Linked DNA regions of Homo sapiens: region 2 is linked to region 1. The links come from fine-mapping of genetic effects on plasma protein levels. Region 1 holds a variant in brackets. A gene starts in the other region. All regions are shown on their reverse strands.

Evidence for each region. PIP is the chance, under the fine-mapping model, that this variant and not a neighbour inherited with it causes the effect. The UK Biobank Pharma Proteomics Project read protein levels with antibody pairs (Olink). The fine-mapping took linkage between variants from a reference panel, not from the people measured, so its PIPs are less certain.
Region 2: it holds the start of PCARE, and the variant in region 1 is fine-mapped to the plasma level of the PCARE protein (UK Biobank, PIP above 0.99).

The regions. Positions count from the first base shown.
Region 1 is chr14:105,903,088-105,905,997 of GRCh38, reverse strand. It overlaps IGH, IGHD4-11, IGHD3-10 and IGHD3-9. Among named protein-coding and RNA genes, the nearest start is that of FAM30A, 13 kb to the left of the region's middle. The variant G/A (reference allele first, on the strand shown) is at 1,486.
Region 2 is chr2:29,073,192-29,076,101 of GRCh38, reverse strand. It overlaps PCARE (photoreceptor cilium actin regulator), which reads left to right and starts at 1,579. Exons shown (of 2, transcript NM_001029883.3): 1 at 1,579-2,910. The coding sequence starts at 1,841.

The DNA of each region.
Region 1 (2,910 bases):
CTCAGTCCAGCACTGTTCATAATAGCAAAGACATTAACCCAGGTCGGATAAATAAGCGATGACACAGGCAATTGCACAATGATACAGACATATATTTAGTATATGAGACATCGATGATGTATCCCCAAATAAACGACTTTAAAGAGATAAAGGGCTGATGTGTGGTGGCATTCACCTCCCTGGGATCCCCGGACAGGTTGCAGGCTCACTGTGCAGCAGGGCAGGCGGGTACCTGCTGGCAGTTCCTGGGGCCTGATGTGGAGCAAGCGCAGGGCCATATATCCCGGAGGACGGCACAGTCAGTGAATTCCAGAGAGAAGCAACTCAGCCACACTCCCCAGGCAGAGCCCGAGAGGGACGCCCACGCACAGGGAGGCAGAGCCCAGCACCTCCGCAGCCAGCACCACCTGTGCACGGGCCACCACCTTGCAGGCACAGAGTGGGTGCTGAGAGGAGGGGCAGGGACACCAGGCAGGGTGAGCACCCAGAGAAAACTGCAGACGCCTCACACATCCACCTCAGCCTCCCCTGACCTGGACCTCACTGGCCTGGGCCTCACTTAACCTGGGCTTCACCTGACCTTGGCCTCACCTGACTTGGACCTCGCCTGTCCCAAGCTTTACCTGACCTGGGCCTCAACTCACCTGAACGTCTCCTGACCTGGGTTTAACCTGTCCTGGAACTCACCTGGCCTTGGCTTCCCCTGACCTGGACCTCATCTGGCCTGGGCTTCACCTGGCCTGGGCCTCACCTGACCTGGACCTCATCTGGCCTGGACCTCACCTGGCCTGGACTTCACCTGGCCTGGGCTTCACCTGACCTGGACCTCACCTGGCCTCGGGCCTCACCTGCACCTGCTCCAGGTCTTGCTGGAGCCTGAGTAGCACTGAGGGTGCAGAAGCTCATCCAGGGTTGGGGAATGACTCTAGAAGTCTCCCACATCTGACCTTTCTGGGTGGAGGCAGCTGGTGGCCCTGGGAATATAAAAATCTCCAGAATGATGACTCTGTGATTTGTGGGCAACTTATGAACCCGAAAGGACATGGCCATGGGGTGGGTAGGGACATAGGGACAGATGCCAGCCTGAGGTGGAGCCTCAGGACACAGGTGGGCACGGACACTATCCACATAAGCGAGGGATAGACCCGAGTGTCCCCACAGCAGACCTGAGAGCGCTGGGCCCACAGCCTCCCCTCAGAGCCCTGCTGCCTCCTCCGGTCAGCCCTGGACATCCCAGGTTTCCCCAGGCCTGCCGGTAGGTTTAGAATGAGGTCTGTGTCACTGTGGTATTACGATATTTTGACTGGTTATTATAACCACAGTGTCACAGAGTCCATCAAAAACCCATGCCTGGAAGCTTCCCGCCACAGCCCTCCCCATGGGGCCCTGCTGCCTCCTCAGGTCAGCCCCGGACATCCCGGGTTTCCCCAGGCTGGGCGGTAGGTTTGGGGTGAGGTCTGTGTCACTGTGGTATTACTATGGTTC[G/A]GGGAGTTATTATAACCACAGTGTCACAGAGTCCATCAAAAACCCATCCCTGGGAGCCTCCCGCCACAGCCCTCCCTGCAGGGGACCGGTACGTGCCATGTTAGGATTTTGATCGAGGAGACAGCACCATGGGTATGGTGGCTACCACAGCAGTGCAGCCTGTGACCCAAACCCGCAGGGCAGCAGGCACGATGGACAGGCCCGTGACTGACCACGCTGGGCTCCAGCCTGCCAGCCCTGGAGATCATGAAACAGATGGCCAAGGTCACCCTACAGGTCATCCAGATCTGGCTCCGAGGGGTCTGCATCGCTGCTGCCCTCCCAACGCCAGTCCAAATGGGACAGGGACGGCCTCACAGCACCATCTGCTGCCATCAGGCCAGCGATCCCAGAAGCCCCTCCCTCAAGGCTGGGCCACATGTGTGGACACTGAGAGCCCTCATGTCTGAGTAGGGGCACCAGGAGGGAGGGGCTGGCCCTGTGCACTGTCCCTGCCCCTGTGGTCCCTGGCCTGCCTGGCCCTGACACCTGAGCCTCTCCTGGGTCATTTCCAAGACAGAAGACATTCCTGGGGACAGCCGGAGCTGGGCGTCGCTCATCCTGCCCGGCCGTCCTGAGTCCTGCTCATTTCCAGACCTCACCGGGGAAGCCAACAGAGGACTCGCCTCCCACATTCAGAGACAAAGAACCTTCCAGAAATCCCTGCCTCTCTCCCCAGTGGACACCCTCTTCCAGGACAGTCCTCAGTGGCATCACAGCGGCCTGAGATCCCCAGGACGCAGCACCGCTGTCAATAGGGGCCCCAAATGCCTGGACCAGGGCCTGCGTGGGAAAGGTCTCTGGCCACACTCGGGCTTTTTGTGAAGGGCCCTCCTGCTGTGTGACTACAGTAACTACCATAGTGATGAACCCAGTGGCAAAAACTGGCTGGAAACCCAGGGGCTGTGTGCACGCCTCAGCTTGGAGCTCTCCAGGAGCACAAGAGCCGGGCCCAAGGATTTGTGCCCAGACCCTCAGCCTCTAGGGACACCTGGGCCATCTCAGCCTGGGCTGGTGCCCTGCACACCATCTTCCTCCAAATAGGGGCTTCAGAGGGCTCTGAGGTGACCTCACTCATGACCACAGGTGACCTGGCCCTTCCCTGCCAGCTATACCAGACCCTGTCTTGACAGATGCCCCGATTCCAACAGCCAATTCCTGGGACCCTGAATAGCTGTAGACACCAGCCTCATTCCAGTACCTCCTGCCAATTGCCTGGATTCCCATCCTGGCTGGAATCAAGAAGGCAGCATCCGCCAGGCTCCCAACAGGCAGGACTCCCGCACACCCTCCTCTGAGAGGCCGCTGTGTTCCGCAGGGCCAGGCCCTGGACAGTTCCCCTCACCTGCCACTAGAGAAACACCTGCCATTGTCGTCCCCACCTGG
Region 2 (2,910 bases), not on the chromosome of region 1:
GAGGCCTTAGAAAAATCCTGAGGCAGCAGTGGATTGAGCACAGGGTGGGGGTGGGGGGCAAAAAGAACACCAGATTCAGAGGGCTCTAAGTGCATCATAGGCAATTATTTCCAGACCATTCAGGAATAAACCAACGCAAACCAATGAAATTCTTATGACTTTCATTATTATAAGTGCCCTAGCTTCCAGGGGGAAAGGAGTAAGAAACTTTTTTTTTTTTTTTTTTTTTGAAGACAGGGTCTCACTTCCAAAGTCCAGGCCAGCTTGCAATAGCACTATTACAGCTCACTGCAGTCTCAACTTCCTAGGCTCAGGTGATTCTCCCACCTCAGCCTCCGGAGTAGCTGGGATTACAGGTGGGTGCCAACATCCCCAGCTAATTTTTTGTATTTTTAGTAGAGACAGCCTCACCATGTTGCTCAGGCTGGTCTCAAACTCCTGAGCTCAAATGATAAGCCTGCCTCAACCTTCCAAAGTGCCGAGATTTATAGGCGTTGAGTCACCACACCTGGCTGAAACTGCATGTTTTTGAGTACCTACCTTGGGTCAAGCACTTACCAAGTATTAATTGACAATCCTCACAATGGCTCTGTGAGGTAAGTACCGTGGTCCTCATTTCAAAGATGAGCTCTGCCTCAGGAAAGCTTAAAAACTATCAGAAGTTTCCTCAACTAACAGGAGAAAGACTCAGGATTCAAACTCCAGTCTTTCTAGGCCAAGCTGTTGTTCTAGATTTTACTGACAGCAAATAAAGTTTAAAAGGAGGTTTTAAATGGGCAGCTGCTACCCTTAGCCACAGGCAGGAGCCCCATGCTCAGTTTGAGCAGAAAAATGGGCTTCCCCTTGAGTTCTCCTCTTAATAATGAAATGGCTCTCCACTGCCCAGTTTTTAGCTTGTTTTCCTATGAAGAAGTTTGAATAAGAAGCCTCTTCCCATGAAAGCATTGCCTTCCTGAGCGTAGTGACCAGCCTTGAGCTTTACATGGCAGTGACTTTTCCTGCTGTCCCCATCCAAACTGGGGGGGATAGCTTTCCTGCTACCTAACTCAATTTTCTAATGCAAAGGAAAAGCAACCTGCCTTCTTCATTCACTATCTTATTTAGAGACATTCTCTATACTAGAGTCCCGGGGTTTTTATAAGCCACACAAACAATAATGCATTACTTCAATTATTATCTATTGTGTGTTTTGGGGGCTTCTTGATAACAGCAGATTGGAGCACACTTGGCTGGTTTGCCCTTATTAAACCGTGAAGGTCACTTCTCTTCCAGGGCCTGTAATCAACGAGCCCTCTCTTCTCTTCCACAAATGCATCTCTTCCAGAGCCTTTGCAATTATGGCTCATTTCTCTAGGTTTCATATGGCAGGCGTCTGAACAGAATTAAAAGCATGAGCACGTGCAAAAATAATCCGCTTCCCAAGATAGTAAATGCTGAGAAGTTCTATATTAGAACACACTGTGAGTGCTGACTGGCTAGGGCATGATTAACCTAATAGGCTTAAGCTGCACTTGCTATCCACATCTGTCAGGACGCGAGCAAAACACAGGCCCGTAATCCACCAGGCTGGGAGCCTTCAGAATTGTCCCGCTGCTCACTAACAGCAGAGGGTTCCAAACTTAGAACAACAACAGGACGACAGGTACCACTCCCTCTTCACATTTGGACCAAGAAAATAAAGAAAGCTGGTTCCAAGTTTAGGATATTGTACCATGGACTTCAAAGAATTCTGGCCTGAAAATTGCCTGGATGGACTAGTAAGATTGCCTTTTGTTCCTATTTCAAATATGATTCTTGGAAAATTGTGAAGGTGGGTGGAAGATGACTACAAGCTGAAATCATGGGGTGTACACCTTCACACAGTGACCTTGTAAACAGCGTTGCAAAGAGTGGCATTCAGTTCTTGAAAAAGCCCAAAGCAATTCGGCCAGGATGTCAGGGCGGAAGTGAAAGAGGTTCCATCCCTTTGCTGGTTAAAAACTCCACCTGCTATGACGCTGGGGAGGGCCTGGCAGAGGAGCAGCCAAGTCCCAGGAGGAACCAAACCACAGCTAAAGGTCTTTGTCAGCTCATGGGAGATCCTGCTTCAGGCAAAAGGAAAGATATGGAAGGACTGATCCCAGGAACCAAAACCTCTTCATCCCAGCTGAACAAATCACAAAGCCACATGGCTAAGGATATTCCGTTCAAGACACAGGGTTCCCATGGATCACAAGGGGCAGACTTTTCTGGAGATGAGAGTGAGGAAAGTAGTACCCAAGATACTTCCAAATGGAAAAGGACAGCAAAATGTCACACGTCAAGCACACAGAGCCACTGCTACCAAACCATCCACCCTGCTCATGAGCCTGAAGGCAAAGTGGACTTCCCGGAGCCTCTGGTAAAGGCCCACCAGCAGGCTTACACCTATCTACACTCCAGCCTCTCCAAATATGAAGCAATTCTGTGCATCATCCATCAGGCCACCCAGACCCGGGAGCTGCTGCAGCCCATGGTCAGCTTCTTGCTGCTGTGCTTTGAGGAGATCAGCCAGCTGTTGGGGGAGATCTCCAAGGATGGAGAAGTGCTCCTGCAGGAAGTCAGGGAGGATCTGGCTTGGCCTTTGAAGAAAAGAGAGCCCCAGGAGCAGCCAAATCTCCTGCAACAGCTGCTACAGTACACAGTCAGCAAGCTGCAGGTGCTCAATGGCACAGTGGCCTCGCTCACCGGCAGCTTCCTGGAGGGCTCCAGCAGCTACCTCCACTCCACTGCAACCCACTTGGAAAATAAGCTGAGCACAAAAAGGAATGTGGATGAACGCCTCCTGAGGGCTCTGAGGCAGCTAGAGAGCCTGGCGAGTGGCTGTGGCGACCCTGGGGTGCAGGGTCTCCCCTTATGCTCTGAGGACAGTGGCATTGGTGCTGACAATGA